4 linked regions of the Homo sapiens genome follow. The protein of the gene in region 2 purifies or fractionates together with the protein of the main gene of each other region. This does not show direct contact. Each region holds a gene or a part of one and is shown on either strand. Other genes may lie near its edges.

What was found. The genes of interacting proteins can lie anywhere in the genome.
Region 1: the proteins of EDN3 (region 2) and COL6A1 purify together in Homo sapiens (affinity purification with mass spectrometry; one large-scale study listed by BioGRID and IntAct). This does not show direct contact.
Region 3: the proteins of EDN3 (region 2) and FBXO11 purify together in Homo sapiens (co-immunoprecipitation; 2 studies listed by BioGRID and IntAct, with this or other methods). This does not show direct contact.
Region 4: the proteins of EDN3 (region 2) and UXS1 purify together in Homo sapiens (affinity purification with mass spectrometry; one large-scale study listed by BioGRID and IntAct). This does not show direct contact.

What each region holds. Positions count from the first base shown.
Region 1 is NC_000021.9:45,991,175-45,995,874, forward strand, and holds part of COL6A1 (collagen alpha-1(VI) chain precursor), read left to right. Parts: intron 1-835; coding exon 836-898; intron 899-989; coding exon 990-1,043; intron 1,044-1,188; coding exon 1,189-1,224; intron 1,225-1,573; coding exon 1,574-1,636; intron 1,637-2,992; coding exon 2,993-3,055; intron 3,056-4,700. UniProt on the Homo sapiens protein: Collagen VI acts as a cell-binding protein.
Region 2 is NC_000020.11:59,317,099-59,321,798, forward strand, and holds part of EDN3 (endothelin-3 isoform 1 preproprotein), read left to right. Parts: intron 1-3,918; coding exon 3,919-4,095; intron 4,096-4,700. UniProt on the Homo sapiens protein: Endothelins are endothelium-derived vasoconstrictor peptides.
Region 3 is NC_000002.12:47,829,394-47,834,093, reverse strand, and holds part of FBXO11 (F-box only protein 11), read left to right. Parts: intron 1-1,023; coding exon 1,024-1,130; intron 1,131-1,213; coding exon 1,214-1,325; intron 1,326-1,415; coding exon 1,416-1,522; intron 1,523-1,607; coding exon 1,608-1,745; intron 1,746-4,700. UniProt on the Homo sapiens protein: Substrate recognition component of a SCF (SKP1-CUL1-F-box protein) E3 ubiquitin-protein ligase complex which mediates the ubiquitination and subsequent proteasomal degradation of target proteins, such as DTL/CDT2, BCL6, SNAI1 and PRDM1/BLIMP1.
Region 4 is NC_000002.12:106,124,197-106,128,896, reverse strand, and holds part of UXS1 (UDP-glucuronic acid decarboxylase 1), read left to right. Parts: intron 1-3,217; coding exon 3,218-3,277; intron 3,278-4,700. UniProt on the Homo sapiens protein: Catalyzes the NAD-dependent decarboxylation of UDP-glucuronic acid to UDP-xylose. Necessary for the biosynthesis of the core tetrasaccharide in glycosaminoglycan biosynthesis.

The sequences.
Region 1 (4,700 bases), on a different chromosome or scaffold from region 2:
TGGAGGCTGGAGGCAGGCAGAGGAGCAGCGGGGACAGTGCCCACCGTGGGGACAGTGGCCGTGGCGCTCCCGCCCAGAGCCTTCCCTGCAGCCCGAGGGCCTTCAGGCCTCCGCCATTCTGTCCCCCGCACCTGCCGCTCGCTCGGCACAGATGGGACCCCACCGCGTCACTCCTAGCCTGCGAGCCGCAGCCCAGAATGGCTCTCAGAACTGAGAATGGGCTGGGTGGCACTGAGGGTGGCGAGTGGGCGGGAGGGTGGTGAGCGGGGGCGGGAGGAGGGTGGTGAGCGGGTGGGAGGGCGAGTGGGCAGCGGGAGGGCGGGAGCACGAGGCGGGAGAAGGAGCTTTTTCGTCTGACAGCTGAGTCTGCCGTTGCTGGTGTTTTCTCTGGAGTTTCTTTGTTGAAGCTGAAGTGTTGGGGAAGACAAAGGCGAATGCTGACCCCACCCCAAACATTCCCAGACGAGCTCCTAGAACCCAGCAGACGGTTTCCAAATCTCATCTTCAAGTTCCCAGATTACCCTCCAGGCCCTAGATTTGAGTTTGCCAATTTGCCAGCCTGGCAAAGCTGTGCCTTCTCTAATGGGAACCAAATCCTGCCCCTTAGACAAGATGGCCCTTGGCTGGGCCTCACAGGGAACAAGGTTGGAGCATTCCAGGAGGTCTTTGTGCAGGGTTGTGGATGGCTGAGGGTGCTGGGGGGTCTGGGCTCAGACAGTGTTGGTCAGAGGGAGTGGCCTGAAGTATGGGTGAGAGGCCCTGGATGTGGCCTCTGATGGCTGCACCCCTGGTGCACACCCCTGCCAGCGTGTGTGACTCCCCCGGTCTTCCCCAGGGCGAGCCTGGAGCTGACGGGGAGGCGGGGAGACCAGGGAGCTCGGGACCATCTGGAGACGAGGTGAGGAGCTTCACAGCCCCCACACATGCCAGGTATGGGCCCAGGGAGGGTCAAGGAGATGGAGCGACCATTCAACCCTTGTTCCCCACAGGGCCAGCCGGGAGAGCCTGGGCCCCCCGGAGAGAAAGGAGAGGCGGGCGACGAGGTGAGTGAGGGCTCCTGACACCTTCCTGGGGAAGTGCATGGCCTCAGCTTCTGATCCTCTTTGCTCGGGGTCTACTCCACGTCCCTGAGACCAAATGCAGTGTGTCCACCAGACTAACGCCGGCGTCTGTTTCTCTTCATCCCAGGGGAACCCAGGACCTGACGGTGCCCCCGGGGAGCGGGTGAGTGGGGCAGGGGCAGCCTGCGCTGTTGGCCTCACCATGTAGCTGTGGACGTGGCCTCTGCGGCCCAGTCTGGCCCTCCCAGCACTGAGAGCCATGGCCTCCTGCCCAAGACAAATGGGTTTCTTCACCCACACGTCCAGGATGCCTCTTCCCACAGTCTCAGAGCGGGTGGGACCTGGGGAACCAGGAGATTCCGGCCTCTGCAACCGTGGGGCATGCGGTGGAGGGGTGGCCCCTCCCAGGGGTCCTGCTGGGGGAGTCAGTCCAGGCCAGGCCTCAAGCCCCACCCCAGCTGGGTGTGAGTTCCAGCAGCTGAGGCTTCTCCCCTCCATGTCTCTCCACTCAGGGTGGCCCTGGAGAGAGAGGACCACGGGGGACCCCAGGCACGCGGGGACCAAGAGGAGACCCTGTGAGTCACAGTTCCTGGAGCTGGGAACCACCCCAGGAAGGGGCAGGCGGAGGCTGGGGCTGGGTCAGGCCTCCAGAGCCACAGGACACATCATGAAGCCCCTGTGGCCCCTCAACGTGGCCAGCCCATCCCCACGCCGTCAGGGAGGGCAGCCCCTGAAGCCGGCGCCCAGCCATGTGCCTGATGCTGGGACCTGTTTCATGTGAAGGCGTTGCCCGTGGACCCGGTGCCCACTTTCCCACCAGGCGGCTTCCACGTTTCTGCATCCGAGCTTGGGTTCTTCTTTGGAATAATTTTCCTTAGTTAAAATTCCCAGCGTGAGGAAGTTGGGTCAGTACCCCAGACGGGAAGCTAGGCCTGCAGGGCGCCTGCCTGGGAAGGCTTGACATGGAAAACTCACCCCAGAGCCGAGATGCCGGCGGCCTCAGAGGCCACCCCCCACCTTCAGCTCCGTGGACCGTGGGCCTCGCTAGGCCACCCCACAGCCCAGCCTCAGGGTGCAGAAGCACAGGGCCCTTCTCTGTCCCTGTGACTTGCTGGGAAATCTGTGCTGGATGTGGGGCGGGGCAGCTGGCAGACTCCGGGCGTCTCAGTCCCATCCGGCTCAGGGAGAGCCAGGGCCTGGCGGGCAGAGTGAAGGGGAGAGAATGCCCTAGTGTGCCCAGCCGAGCTGCCAGGCCTCAGAGGCAGCGCCCCCGGGTGCCCCCTTGTCCGAGAATCAAGACATGCGACTGTCGTGTGCTGTGACAGACAGGCGGGGCTCCAGCAGGGCCAGAGAGCTGAGCCGGGGCCAGAGTCGCCGCCACCGAGGGATTTGGCTCCCCAGTGGGGGGTGGGGGATTTCTGACCTCCTCCCTGGGAGCTCCCCAGAAGCGCACAGCCCCCGTGGAGGGGTCGGGGGGACGTCAAAGCAGGGATCGTGTGACTTAGTGACTCAGACTGCCTTCTAGGCCCACTCCTCTGAGATCAGGATATGAGACTGACAGCCAGGCAGAGCCCAGAGGAAGGGCCAGCCACGCAGCTCCAGCTTCCCGGCGGGCCACAAGTCCATGGCTACAAACACTTGCCGGGTCCACGGAGCTTGCTGGAGAAGCAGGGATGCACGCAGGGACGCCTCTGGGGCCCCAGGAGGAGCTGCCGGCCTCCTGAATGAAGATAGCCATAGCCAGCCACGCCGATGGCCACGCACGTGGGCCGAGGAAACGCTTGGCGAGGCCAGGAAGGGGCTGTGCGGGGAGGGAAGGCCGGAACAGCCCAGTGACCACCTGGACAGCATGCTGTGGCTCCCAGCGTGCCCGGGCAGCCATCCTCCCCAAGGATGGCCCAGCTCCACACTCACGGCTCGTTTCTCTTCAGGGTGAAGCTGGCCCGCAGGGTGATCAGGGAAGAGAAGGCCCCGTTGGTGTCCCTGGAGACCCGGTAGGAAGCGCTGTGGGGTTGGGGGGCGTTGGCCAATTTGGGTTTTGGGGGTAGAAGTGCTCCAGCAGCTCACGCACTGGGGGTCTGTTCATTTCCGTTTGAGGGCCTCTGTGTTTCCGTAGATCTCGGGGGTGTCCCTGCGTGGGAGCCGGCTGCAGGGGGTGAGGCGCGGCCTGGGCCGGGCTGGTGTGGATTGTTGAGAGCAGGCCCAGCGCCCGGGGGCCTGACGCTGAGACGCTCAGCCCAGGTGGAGAAGCGCTGTCTGGGGGCCCATCCGGGGCAAGGGTGCCTCACAGTGAGGAAGAGGTGTTGGAGCCCCTGGGAGACACTGGGAGCTTGGTCAGCATCTGTTTTTCTGGGTCAGGAGCCAGGCATGACTGTGGCTGGAGGTCAACTGGGGAGTGTGAGGCTATGGAGGTTTCCAGAATCCCAGGGTGTCAGGATGAAAATGCACTTTCATCTCATTCTAAATTCCCTTCTCCGAGCCTCTGGAATCGCTGTGCACGCCGCACGGCTTTCTGTCTCTTCCCCCATTCTGATGACTGCCATGATGGTGGCTCCAGTGTGGTGTTGCCCGCAGGCTGGGCTGGGCCGTTGCATCCTCCCGGAGCTCACCTGCCCCACGGGGACAGGAAGGCCTCCACACGGTCACGCCCGGAGACAGCAAGTCTGTGCTCCCGAGCTTGTCTGCTTCTGTGGACAAATCGACCTTACGGCTCCATGTGCGCAGCTGCCCACACACCGAGCACAAGGCCAGACCCTGGGCACGGCAGCTGTCTCAGACGTCCAGCAAGATGGGGCCTCAGACCCAGGGAGATGGGAGAGGCCGTCCCAGTGCAAGTCACATTTGTATTTCTGTGCACGAGGTGAAATCGTGCTTTTGTGGTGCCAACGGGTGTTACACAGCTGTTAAAAATACCTGTGTCATAGATGAGGACCAGGGCAGGGCTTGGCAGGCGGGGTCTGGGCCGTTCGTCCACCTGGTCCTGCGTGCCGCTCACGGCAGGGGCAGAAAGGGCTCCCGACACCTTCCTGGGGAAGTGCACGGCCTCAGTCTCTGATCCTCTTTGCTCTTTGAGCTCCCGGGGCTCCAGCCCTGAGGATGATCTGACCTCCCATGTGGTCACCCAGGACAGGGCCAGGTGCAGGGCACAGTGCGTGGAAGAGGCCATGCAGCCAGTGGCAGATTGTGGGGAGGGGACGGCCCAGGGCCACGTTCCAGGCTTGGGAGGCTGCTCCAGACCTTGGTAGCTGAAAGTCTCAGTGGGAATGAGCGTTCAGAGGCCAGGACTTGCTCGGAGAATTCTAACCACACCCTGCCTGTTTTATATGTTCAGTTTTCAAAGTAATCAATAGCCACTATAAGAAAAAAACAAAGCCACTTTCAAAGGGTTGTGGTAAGAGGCAGTCCTGTGAGCAGGCCGGCTGCAGGGCCTCCAGGGCTGTGGGGCAGGCTGCACAGGGGCTGGTGGGTCCCATGCCTGGGGGTCTGGGAATAGTCTCTAGGCTGCTGTCCTGGAGGAGGTTTCCCCCAACGCCTGAGACCAGGGCACCATGTGACCCATGACTCACAGTTGCCTGGCTGAGGCAGGCACTTGTTCACCTGGAGCCTCCCTGGGGCCTTTCGGGGCCCGGGGGTGTGGAT
Region 2 (4,700 bases):
TTCATGGTCCACCGTTAGGTCTTTCCTGTTCACTACTCAGTAAACAGCCAGCGATGAAGCAGGCCACAAATGAAATATGAATGCTCATGAGATATGAGTACGTTATCACTACTGAAATAGAAGTGCTCATGAGCTGGTAATCTGGCGTCAGAGCTCGGTGAGAAGGTGGTGTCGAATGAGGTGACCTGTGGCCTTGGGCTCCTTATTACCCTTCTTTATTGCTAAGTCAAACATCTCAAATGCCAAGCTTAGTAGGTGGGACTTTTCTGATACAACTCACTTGACCTCCCAGACCAGATAAATAACAATAGTAGCTACTGTTTGCTTATGGCACTTTGCTAAGTATTTTCCATGCAGTATCTCCTTTGCTTTGTCCAGCCACACTTTTGTCGACCAGGAAGTTGTTGAGAGGGTGAAGTGATCATCATGTAACATAAGAGCAGTATTACCAGGTCATGTGTCTCTGTGTGTACCTTGCACATACCTGTACCTACTGGCCTTTTTTCCTTTACCTGTTTTCGTAGTCCAACAGCATATAACTCCTGAAGGCATGGACACATAGGGATGTGCCTTTCTGTGTCCCTGTGACACTTACATTGATACCACGTATATAGTGGATGCTGAAGAATGTTGGAGATTCTTTCAGTGATTTTTGTGGTTATTGAACTCTTTAGGGTGAAAAGAATCCTGTCTCGCCAGACTAGAATGATCTCACCATGAATTACCAGTTGCTCAATCAATAATCTGTTCGCCTGGCCTTGTGTGAGGCCCATGGTGGGTAAAAAAGAAGTAAAAGACCTGCCCTCTCTTTTGAGGATCCAGTAATCTGCCTTTAGACTTGGGTAAGAAACACTGCAACTCTGGGCCCTGTGGGTTAGAGGACTGCCTCTGACGCCACTCTGGCCATGCCTCCCACCCCACTGTAAGAGTCTGGGACTCAAAGCCATATGCTCCCTCTTCAAGACCATGTTCCAGGTATTCAGGGGCTGGAATTCCCTACTCACGCATCCCCAAGACCACTTCCAGGGCCTGACACTTGGGGATGAGCAGGGCTCCAGGTACATATCTCCAGGCCTGCAGGGTGACAGCTGCTTACAGGATGTAGGGTGGAAGGAGCTTGGAGGAAGCAGCCTGGGGCATGCACGGGGAGTGCTTGAAGCCAGCGCTGGTGTGGGATGGCGCAGGATAGCAGAGAAGGTACTGGGCCTCCACCACATGTCGATACGGAGTGGCCAGGAGCCCAGGATTCTAAATTAAAAGCTGGACCTGCAAGGCAGCATTTGGAAGCCACATTTGTCCAGATACAGGAGATAACACTTTTTCGTTTCAGGGCTTATCAGATCGATTGAAACCTTTAAATGATTAGCCCTGTGGGAGGTGGGCCTCCATCGCGAACTCTCATTCCAGACTCTACAATGTCAGCGGCAGGCTCTGCTGGGCCGTCAGCTTCCCTCACCTCCGCACGGGTCGGTCAGCAGACTGCACACCCGGAAGGCCCAGGCCTTGGTGGAGGGGTTTCTGTGCCTCAAGGCTGTAGGGCAGGGGAGGGGGCCGTGCCTCTCTAAACTGCCAGAGCCTGTTTGCACACCAGCACTTTACCGCGCTTGGCGGCCGGGGAAGTGCTAAGCCTGTCTTCATTAACAAATACCATGTTGCCTTGTTTCCTTACTTAAAACACTTTGGAGTGTTTTGGCTCAAGTTGAGGGGCTCTACATGTGCAAATGCATAATCAGCTGACAGCAGTTTCAAAATTGCAGGTCTCACTATTGATGGAGAAATGGGAGCGTTGTTATTCCTTGTGTGTAATTTTCTCCAAGAAATGGGGGGATTGATTTAATGTCAACACTCAGAGATTTAATGTGGCCCTGTTACTGGAAAAATACACCTTTGCCAAACTCTGCCTCAAAACAATGTCTACATTGTCTTGCTGCACTCCCTACCCCCATTTCCCATTCCTGAGAAAAAACGGGCTTGAAGGAGGGTTCAGCTCAATACAGGGCTGGATCCTGCCCTCTGTCTCCGTTTCCTGAGCACAGATGGCTCATCAGCGGGGCCTGTCTCTGCCTGGAGGGATCCCACCACCTCTGTTTCTGAGGAACTTGGGTGGGAGGGAGTTAGTGGGGAGAACAAGAGTCAACGAACAGGGTGGGGTCAGTTTTAGGCTCTTGTGTTCAACCCAGCAGGGAGGCGGGGGCGGGGGACTCCCTCCAAGCCTTAGGTCACTATGGGGCTTCCTGGCCCAATTTGCCCTCACTGTCGCAAAAAGGCTTTATGGTGTGTGTTTCAAATGAAAAGAAATTCAATTTGATTTTATTTTGAAAATGCAGCGAGGGGCTGGGCATGGTGGCTCACACCTGTAATCCAGCACTTTGGGAGGCCGAGGCAGGCGGATCACAAGGTCAAGAGATGGAGACCATCCTGGCTAACACAGTGAAACCCTGTCTCTACTAAAAATACAAATAATAACAATAATAATAATTAGCCGGGCGTGGTGGCACATGCCTGTAGTCCCAGCTACTTGGGAGGCTAAGGCAGGAGAATTGCTTGAATCGGGGAGGCAGAGGTTGCAGTGAGCCGAGATCGTGCCATTGCACTCCAGCCTGGGCGACAAGAGCGAGACTCTGTCTCAAAAAAAAAAAAAAAAGAAAAAAAAGAAAAAAAGAAAAGAAAAGAAAAAAGAAAATGCAGAGGGGATGTCAGGACTCCCTTTGAAGTGGATAATTGGTACTACTCAGTGGGGTTCATGGAAACCAAGGTGGTTCATCTCTGGGGACTAGCAAGAAAACCAATGTTTATTGGAAAAGTGGCTTTGGCCACATGTTTCTTCTAGCTATTAGTAATTTGTTCCTCAAATCAAGCTAGTAAGTTAAGGATCTGCTTTCAACTTCTTCCCGCTGAACTGCCTGGCAGGCACCCCCTTTTTCTCTGGCAAGTGATGATTTGGATGTGCACACTCACTAGAACCAGCTTCCACGGGTTTTGCTCTGAACCACACCATCACACTCCTCCTGCCAACGCCAACCATAAACGAAATTGGTCAATGGTTTCAAGCCTTCTTCATCACGCGGCTCTTCTGAGGCTGGTTCCACTTTCAGCTGCATGGCCAGGCCCTCACCCGCCTCTCAGAGGTCACGGAGTGTTCCTTCTGATGTTTGTCTCTTTGAGGAAGCAACTTTCAAAGGCCGGGATGCATCTCTAATGACTGTAATTGCATTTCCCATCTTCTCATTAGCACAAACTGCTGTGCACATGGAAGAAATTCAGTCAGAAACCTCAGGTCTGGCCTCAGGCTGCGGGGTAGGCAGGTGATCTGATCAGGGCGAAGACCCAGACCAGCACGTAGGTTGCCCCACATGCCCTTGGCACAGGAAGAAAAGCCTCTGGAACAGGTGCTATGGTTGTCTTTAATTCTTTCTCGGCTTTCCATGGAATGAGGAGGAGGCCCAGATGGTACTTCCAGAGCCGAGGAGCAGAACCCGGCCCGGAGGAGCTAGGCCGGCCGTGGTTTGGTCTTGAAGAGAATGAAAGCCCACCCATGTTCACAGATCGCAGAGCCCCAGGGCGTTCAGGCCACACCTGCAGCTGGTGCCTTGGGTGAGGCTAAGGGGCTCACAAGTGCAGGCACACATGCCCAGACGCCTGCTGGGCTCCAAGAGTGCTGGCTGCTGCCCAGCTACCCAGACCCTCCATGTCCTTCCATGCCCTCAGCCCCAACTCTCTTCCTGGGGGTTGTGGAGGGCAGGGGGTGCACAGTTCACTCCAGAACCTTCCTAAGACCCAGAGCTGTAGTGGGGAGGGTTGTGAACACCAGTTTCTGAGACCTTTTCAGCCAGGCGGTGGTTCTCGCTCCACACCCTTGGGGGCCCCTGAGCAGGGAGGCCTGGGTGTGCTCACCTAACATTACCCTGTGCTTTGCAGACAGACGGTGCCCTATGGACTGTCCAACTACAGAGGAAGCTTCCGGGGCAAGAGGTCTGCGGGGCCACTTCCAGGGAATCTGCAGCTCTCACATCGGCCACACTTGCGCTGCGCTTGTGTGGGGAGATATGACAAGGCCTGCCTGCACTTTTGCACCCAAACTCTGGACGTCAGCAGGTATGACACCTCCTCCAGTTTCACTCATTTGCAGATATGCATCAACCCTCGGCAAGGCCAGGCCAGGGGCTTCTCAAAGGAGGGTGTAGGATAGTTCAGTCACATCCTGACCTACTGTCGTCCTGTGGGCCAGAGAAAGGAGGTGCTGAGCCCAGAAAAGACCCAGGTCCTCAGCATCAGGAGGGCAGGAGATGCAGCGTCCCCACCCCCTTGCTGCCTTTTGGAACAGAAGCTTCACAGTGGCCGTGGCTACATCTGGTTTCCAGACATATGTTTTTCTGGCCTGCACAGCACTTTGTGAAAATCTGAATAAGTTGCCAACACTTAAAAGATTGAAGAATTAACCCCTGCCAAATGCGTATTTTTAGCCTTCTCGAAAATAGCCCATGATAAGAGTGCAAAAGGCTTATTGGGAGGGGGGGGAACCCAGCACGTAGGACCATCTGGTCTCAGAGCCCCCCTTCTCTTTGGCCACCCTCAGCTGGAACTGAGTGGGGGCATCTCACGTTTGAGTAGGATGTGCAATATCCATTTACCTGTTACCAATTTATCTTACTTTGTAGCCCCTGGAGGCCCCCAAGTTTGAGACCCTGTGGTCTGTCCTG
Region 3 (4,700 bases), on a different chromosome or scaffold from region 2:
ACAGACATGAGCCACTGTGCCTGGCTGTATATGTTTCCTAATGTTAGTACTTTCTCCATTTGCCTTGAGTTATTCATTAAACGAAGAAAAATAGCTTTTTCATCTTTTATTTGAAAATAAAGATGCAGCCAGGTGTGGTGGCTCACACCTGTAAACCCAGTAGTTTGGGAGGCTGAGGTGGGTGGATCGCTTCAGGTCAGGAGTTAAAGACTGGCCTGGCCAACATGGTGAAACCCCATCTTTACTAAAAATACAAAAAAAATTAGCCAGGTGTGGTGGTGTGCACCTGTAATCCCAGCGACTCTGGAGGCTGAGGCAGGAGAATTGCAAAGAAAGATGCTAATATTTCTATTGCTATGTTTTTAAAGGAACTGAAATAGAATTTTTAAATACTTTTGTACTATTTCAAAGCTATTTATGGTCAGGTTTCTAAGAATAAATGTAATATCTGTCAAACACTGAGTCATTTGAAGATTTGTGGTTTTTTTATTTTGAGGATACAGTACATAGAACATTTTAAGATAGCTAGTAATTATTATTTGCTAGTGAAATTTGCATTTACAGCCTCTTTTGCTTTCTTCCTCTATCTCCTCATGAAGATGGGGAGAATAGATTAGAGCAAATGTTTGTCTGGTGATTTTATTACTTTCTAAATCGAGGCCACTGTTGGAAATAAATTTAAATAGAGGTCTCTTCTCTTCTTGAGCTTCTGTTTCCAGTGCTGCTGCTGGAAACAGAATGGTTTCCACAAGAAACCATTTTTTGTTTTTGTTTCCACAAGAAACCATTTTTTAATATGCCGTTGCATTTTATATTCATAGTATTTATAGTTAAATGTTATTAGAAGTAATACTGTGCATGGATTTGAATATAGCAAAGGCTGATGATGAAACATAGTTAACTGATAGTGAATATTAGTCCCACTACTCAGTACTAATGTTTTTAGTAAGTTCCCCCTCCATAAAGATACCCATCTGTTGAAATCGAATAAAGGTAATATTCTTTAAAATATCTTCTCCACAGCACCTGGGAAAGTGGCAGACAAAGTTATAATTGAAAACACTAGAGATTCAACCTTCGTTTTTATGGAAGGCTCTGAAGATGCTTATGTTGGATATATGACAATAAGGGTAAGACATGTTAAGATTTAAAATACACATTGAAATCATAAAGGCAGTAATTGTTTATTTCAAACAAAATTTTTACTTTTCAGTTTAACCCTGATGACAAATCTGCACAACACCACAATGCACACCACTGCTTAGAGATTACAGTAAATTGTAGCCCTATTATTGATCACTGTATCATCCGAAGTACATGTACAGGTTAGTGTTTTCTTTATATTTTACAATAAAATTTTGAGTCACTGTATGTTGCCCAGTAGGTTTTTACATAAATAAATAATTTTTCTACAGTTGGTTCTGCAGTATGTGTTAGTGGTCAAGGAGCATGTCCCACCATCAAGCACTGTAACATCAGTGACTGTGAAAATGTTGGACTATATATAACAGATCATGCACAGGTATTTTTTAATTTTGTGTGGTTTTTTTCTTTTTAGAAAATGTTTAAAAGCTCTACTGATGTTTGTTTCTGATAACTTGTTGTAGGGAATATATGAGGATAATGAAATTTCCAATAATGCGTTAGCTGGGATTTGGGTTAAAAATCATGGAAACCCAATTATTAGACGGAATCATATTCATCATGGACGTGATGTTGGTGTGTTCACATTTGATCATGGCATGGTAAGAACACTTATTTTTAATAGAAAAACGGACTTCTGTATCAGTTAAATTCCAAGTATGTTTCAGCATTATTTTCTCATCACCAAATTATCTGAATTGAAGAGTATAGGTTTAAAAGCAATTTCAGCATTATTTTTTAAAATTAATATGAAATATTTATTCTGTAAATTTATGCATCAGACATATCCATGTAGAGGTGATAGCGTTCTTAGGCAATATATGTGATCTTTGAGGGGAGTAAGGTATAACTCGTTAATTAAGTCTCAAATGTGTGTTCATAAAAGCCACCCAAAAGCTTTCTGTTTTAAAGAAAATTCCTGTATCCTCCAGTTTAATAAATCAAAATTTCCAAGGATGGGGCTTAGAATATGTATTTTTAATAAACAACATAAGTGAATCTAACACAGTTTGTAGAGTATACTTTGAGAAATAATGGTTTCATTGTTATTTTGCTTTTCATTTAATTCCTCTTGAAAATTTTAAACTGGCAGAACTTTAATAGGAGATACATTGATAAAATACCAATTTTAAAACCATTATGCAGCAGTTAATATTAGGCATCCTTATGGAATATACTGTGTTTTAAGTATTACCTTATAGTTTTACATAATTTTCTAGAGACATGACTTTTTGAGCTCTGAGATCACCATTTCAAAATAATGTTTTGAATGTCTTTTCAGATTTTTTTTCATTTAATGTCAAATTTTCCTTGAGGTAATTTTCAAGTCCTAATACAGCATTGGTAAAATTTTTTGTTGCGGAGTCCAAGATGGGAGAGAGGGTCACCACATTGTAGCAAATAGGATTATGGTGAGGTTTTGTTGCCTATTATACAATATTAAGCAATCCTGGGAATGTTGGATTCATCTATACAAAGAAATTTTTTTATTTTCATTTTTCTTTTTTTTTTTTTTTTTTTTTCTTTTTGAGACCGAGTTTCACCCTTGTTGCCCAGGCTAGAGTGCAATGGCAATGGTGTGATCTTGGCTCACTGCAACCTCCACCTCCTGGTTCAAGCGATTCTCATGTCTCAGCCTTCCAAGTAGCTGGGATTACAGGCATGCACCACCACGCCTGCCTAATTTTGTATTTTTAGTAGAAACAGGGTTTCACCATGTTGGTCAGGCTGGGCTTGAACTCCTGGCCTCAAGTGATTCACCTGCCTCGGCCTCCCAAAGTCCTGGGATTACAGGCATGAGCCACTGCGCCTGGCCAAGGCAGAGCTCTTTTTTTAAACTAAACTAGACCATGGCCGGGTGCAGTGGCTCACACCTGTAATCCCAGCACTTTGGGAGGCCAAGGCAGTTGGATCGCTTGGGCTCAGGAGTTCAAAACCAGCCTGGACAACATGGTGAAACTCTGTCTCTACAAAAAATACAAAAATTAGCTGGGCATGGTGGCTCACACCTGTAGTCCCAGCTACTTGGGGGCTGAGACAGGAGGATCACTTGAGCCCAGGAGACGGAGGTTGCAGTGAGCCAAGATGTAAGATGTGTGCCTTTGCATGGGATTTCAGGCGTGAGCCACCACACCTGGCCAAGTTCATCATTTTTGAAAGACCTCTGGTGATGGGATGGTCCCTTATTAAAGTTCACCATAGTAAGTTACTCCTCATCACACACACACTCCTTATACCATTTTAAAGAATAGATTTGGGCTTGTAAATATCACAGCATTTTTAAAAATAAGTCTAGACAATGCTATAGATAGATATTTCCATTAAGGATTAATGAGATTTATACATTTTAAGATTTATAAAGTATTTCAATCTATCTCCACCCCATCATTTTTATTTTTATTTTGCAAAGGTTTAAAATATTTGCATTCCTACAGTTATTGGTCTATATTTATTCTTTATTTATTTATCATTAGTTCTTTTATCATCGTTTCTCCATTCTTGAATTTAAATTTTGATTCATTCTTGGTATGGCTAGGTTTTGTCATCCAGCCATTTTTTGTTTGTTTTTTTTAAAGAACGCCTTATGGATATTGTAGCTTGAATTCTTGCCATGCGAGAATCCCTATCCATTGCCTTTTAACTTAGCTGAGTTTCTTTCTTTCCCTCACGATTCTGTAGACATTTTTCTATTGTAGCATTGAGCATGGCTGAGAACTCTGAGATCACATTGGGTTTTTTTCTTTCTTCTTTGCTTGAAAGATTGCTCTTCTACCTCAGTATCCATATTTTGGCTTTTGCTGATGTATTGTTTTACTATTTTTCTGTTCCATATGTTCCTTTCTTTAGAAACTTAGCTATCTTTCTGGTTATTTATATTGCTATGTTCTGTTCTGTTTAGTGTTGTGTGAGTTCCTCAAATCTGTGTTCCTTACCATGTCTCCGTGGTTTTGTTTTTCTGCTGCTATTTTGCTTCCAGTGTGGGTGTTGCCTTTAATTTTTACATTTTTTTAATGAAATATTTCTAACGTACACTGAAGTAGAGAGAATAGTGTAATGACTCTCCAGGTACCTATTGTCTGCCTTCAACAACTATCATTTCATGGCCAATTTTGTTTAATGTATACCTCATACGTTTTACTACCTTTTTTACACTCTGGATTATTTTGAAGTAAATACCAGACTTCATCATCTCTTGTAAATATTTTACCATGTGTCTTTAAAAGATGGGTGTTTTTTTTTTCTTTCACATAACCACAGTGCTAATCCACTCCTCAATAATTAGGAATAATTCCTTAATATCATCAAATTTTCTCTTAATGTTCACAGTTCTCCAATTGTCTTTTGTTTGTTTAATACTCAGTTCAGTGCAGAGTTGTTACTTTTGTAAAATAAGATTAAAATGTCATAGCAGGCCAGGTGTGGTGGCTCATGCCTATAATCCTAGCACTTTGGGAGGCCGAGCAGGCAGATCACCTGAGGTCAGGAATTCGAGAACAGCCTGGCCAACATGGTGAAACCCTGTCTCTACTAGAAATACATAAATTAGCCGGGTGTGT
Region 4 (4,700 bases), on a different chromosome or scaffold from region 2:
GGTTCTGCAAATAGACTTGGGACATACAGCACTAAATTTTAATTTGAACAAAGCGTGGAGTCGAGAATGAAAGGACAGCCAGAGATTGGTTTATCTCTTAGATGCAATATTTTAGGGGGTGGTACTAGTCAAGGTTCTACAGAAGAACAGAACCAATAGGATGTGTAGAGATTTAGAGAAAGAGATTTGTTACGAGAGATTGGCTCACATGATTATGGAGGTCAAGAAGTCCCACCGTCTGCCTTCTGCAAGCAAGAAAGAGAACCAAGAAAGCCAGGGGTGTAGTTCCAAGGCCTGAGAACCAGAGAGCCGAGGGCAGATCGATGTTCTGTGTAAGCAGTTGACCTTCCTCCATCTTTGTGTTCTAGTCAAGCCTGTAAGGGACTGGATGATACATCCACGTTGGGGAGGGCCATGTGTTCTACGCAGTCTACACATTCAAATTATCCTCTCTTCCGGAAACACCTTCACAGATACCCCCGGACATAATGTTCAACCAGATACCTGGGCATCCTGTGGCCTAAGTTGACACATAAAATGAACCATCACAGGGGACAGGTTGTTTGGAGTAAGATGATTCATTCTTCCTATCTGGAAAGAGCTTTATCTTCTTTGTTACCGTCTCCTGCTCTGGTCACCAGACAGAACAGGGTGCTGCTGCTTCTGCTTAGAGGTGTGCGTGATGCCCTCTTCTTGCCATCACAAGCGCCTACCCCTCCTACACTCTCTCTGTCCCGCCCCCCTCCATCATACCAGAACTAGACCATAGAGGAAAAGATCATGCACTTGGTGTTTAGGGAGATTCCGTTTATTCTTCCTACTCGGGGGATGCAGTCACTGTGCCCGTGGGTCCTGTCACTGGGGCAGATTCAGATGGGGTTACCCTCAGGCTCTTCTGCACTTGGTGCCCTATGGGGGTTGGGGGCTGCTGAACGGGCACAAGCGTCGATGATACCTAGTAGGAAAGGAAAGTCTCCCAAAGAGAGGCCTCAGCAAAGTGCTGTTAGAGTTAAAGGCAAAAATGACTCGAGCTAGGGCTTGAGCTATGACTGAGATTGAATGTGGAGGCCTTGCAGGAATGGTAAAGAGTCTTCCAGGAGAGATACAAAAGGCAAAGGGAGACCATTGGTAGGCTGGAAAGAAACCCAAATTGGACTTTGTATTCTGAACCGAGAGGCGCTGTCATTAGCCATCTTGCACTTGAGACAAGATGCCATGAACTTTGCCTGGCTTTTTCCTGGTGAGGCCCTTTCCTCTATGTAACTTGCCCACCTCCCAGACCCTGTGCTAGAGTTCTTTCTCTGATGAAAGTTTTTCGTAACCCCCAGACACTACAGCAGCAGGATAGCTCCCTTGGCTTCACTCCCTGACAGTTGTCTCTGTAGATCCTGCGTGAGTCATTCCATGAAAGTGCTACAGAAATAGTCTTAGTTTCAAAATCTTTAAACTCAGTTGTTTTTGAAATATAACACATTGCATTTGTGATGTGTGTTTGTGACCAAAGTTCAGAGAAAACTATAAACTAGAAAGAACTCAGGTAGGGGGGAATATAAAATGTATAGTTACTCTGGAAAACAGTTTGACGCTTTCTTAAAAAACTAAGTATGCATCTACTGTAAGACTCAGTAATTGTATTCTTGGGCATTTCTCCCAGAGAAATGAAAATTTATGTTCACATGAAAACCTGTGTGAATGTTCATAGCAGCTTTACTTGTAGAGGTCAAAAATGAGAAGCAACCAGAATGTCCTATCATAGGTGAATGATTAACGGCAGTGCATACATATATCCCCGGGAATTCTACACAGCAATAGATTAGGAAGGAACTTTGATACACACTGCAGCTTGGATAGATTTTGAGGGAAATATGCTCCATGAAAAAATTCAGTCCTAAGAGGCCGTGTTCCATTTGTGTATCATCCTTGAAATGACACAATTATAGACATGGAGAATTGGTTAGTGGTTGCCAGGGGTCAGCAGGTGGGAGGGAGCGAGGAGAGGCTGTAGAAGGGCCCTGTGAGGGATCCTGGTGGAGATGGAAATGCTCTATCACTTTTATCAATGGAATGTCCGTTTCAGTGGAAATAGTCACTGATCATATCAATGTCAATGTCCTGATTGTGGCACAATCTAGTTTTGCAAATTTTAGCATTGGGGGAATCTGGGTAAAAGATACATAAGGTCCCTATACTACTTTGTACAATTGAATTTGAATGTACAAATATCTCAAAAAATTTAATCAGGAAGAAAAAGATCTCAGAGTCCTTCATTTTGAAGCTACTACATTGTCTGACACACTGATACCCCTGGCTGCTGCACGCTAGAATCCTACCACCCCACCCAGCCTCACCCAGAAGCGCACATAGGTTGCATGTGCCTGGCTCGTCTCACCCTCCTAGCAGTGCTTCGTGGGCATGTGTTGGCCCCTGCTGTTGGTGGGGGGGCAGAGCTGAGGGGTGTCCAGCACAGCCCCCCTCTAGTGTAGTGGCGATTGGGGGTGGGGTATGTCGCCTGTCTTAAGTACAGGGTTAGTGACGGTCAGGGGGGTTCTTGGATCCTGTAGTGAACCACTGTACACTGGGACTCTGTGAATGAGTTTGGAAGACTTTCCATACTTACTTGACCACCATAGATAATGATGTTCTGGTCAGTTACATGTGAGTGGTCAGTCCAGGAAAGGGGTTCAGAGCAGAATTGAGGAATGTGACAGTTGCTTTGGAAAAGGTGCTGTGTAAGCTGAACCGCATAGGAGGAAGAAGAATGAGTGGAGAGTTACCCAGACAGGGTGGCATGGGCAGTTAGAAGAGCCCAGGAGATGTTCAGGAAGTGGCAAGCTGACCATTGTGGAAGTTAAGGAGAAAAGGGCCTTGCCTTCTGCCAACCAAGGGAAAGTTACCCAGTAAAATATGGGGTAATATTTGGGGGCAGAGGAGTCTTCACGAAACTCCTCAAATCACACTTTATCAAACTAACAGATTCTGCGTTTGGCCCTGCTTATGACAAGTATTCAACAAAATACTGGCCTTCTGAGAATCCATTTATGTTTTTCTTACTGTATTTGTTTTGTTTATTTTGGTGCCAAAGCAGACGCAGTAAGGGTAGATAATTGGATAGATAATTAAATGTCTTTAATACTAAAACATTGCTTAAATTGGCCAGCAAAAAATGTGCCTGCACATGTAAATTCAGTCTCTTTTATCATGTCATTGCTTTCTGTAGGGCTGGCAAAACGAGTCGGTGCCCGTCTGCTCCTGGCCTCCACATCGGAGGTGTATGGAGGTGAGTAGGAGGCTCTCTCAGGAGATGTTCACTCCAGCCCTTGGACTGTTTTCATCCTGTCTCAGAAGAGTCCAGTGTTCTTTTCTGAGGAGGCCCAGCCTGCCCATGCTCCTCTTGTGCACAGGAGGCTACCTGTCGGCCTCCCGGGTCGCCAAGCTCCTCTTCCTTGTGGGACAGCCTCTCTTGTTTGATCACACATCACTGGAGGTCTGCACCCTGTCACCTGGCCAGTAAAGACCCACCATTTATGATTCCACAGAAGTGTTTCTGCCATTCTGCTCTGAAAACACCCCACAAATCACACTATCTTTTTACCTGTTTGTCTAGCACATGTCATTCTTCTATGTGAGTCATGCATGCTGCATGCCTGACCTCCCAAGAGCTCATGGGCTGGCCTTTAAAGCTTGCTGGGAGAAGAGACATGCGCTGACTGCCTCCCCTGTTGTATAACGAGTTCTGGAAGAACCTTAAGCAGGTAGTGTCAGAACACCCACGAGCTTGTTTTACCAAGCTACAGCCTTCCTCTCCTTCACTGCCTGAGAAGGAGTTGAGGAGTGGGGACCAGGAGCTGTGTTTTCAATGTGTGTTGATTTCTCTTCAGCCCCAAACCAGCTGGGTGTGCAAGGTTCAGGAGAACTGCTTAGCTGATACAGCGGAAGCCAGGTTTTAGTATGATGTAATTTTTCTATTTTACATTATTATTGTGGACAAGAGAAGGAAGTAAGAGGGTAAAATCAGAAGAGACTTTTTTTTAATTAAGGAAACCAAATGAAAAAAATCATAGCAACAGAGAAATTCTTCTAAATGCAGTGATATTCTTTGTAATCTCTATGAAAAGGTAGTTCATTGTCTACTTTTTTGAAGTCCTGGGCAGTTATTAATAAAAGAGCAGAGTGTGTCCCTCCCTACCTATGGGGTATGGTATCTGTCCAGAGGGGAACAGTGACATCTTTCCCACAGCCATCCTGCTTCCCCTACTCATCTCATTTATTATCTGCATGTCTGACAGGAGCCTGTGTTCCTTAGGCTTCCTAAATAATTGGAGAGTGTAATTTATGGAAGTCACCAGGTGCTCTCCTCTGACCTTGAATAACCAAAGTAAACTTTTGTGGAGTATTTGCTTAGTGTCTTAGCCTCACAGAATGCTGGAAAGGGGAGATGATTGGAAATTATTTTTGACTCTAGGTCTTTACTTTTGTATTAACAATGTAAGCTGTCCCTGTTTTATTCCACGGTGATTTTGTGAGGGGACTTATTTAGAAGCTTGGCATCCTGGGCATTTCAGTCCAGACGGTGCCAGTCCAGGGACAGATGGGCGTACCCAGCCTTTTCTTTCTTGTCCTTTGTCAAATTTATGACCATCTTTTTTGGAGGGTAGCTTGCCCAGCTCTTGTTAAAGATCCCCAGAAAAAGGTCTGGGATC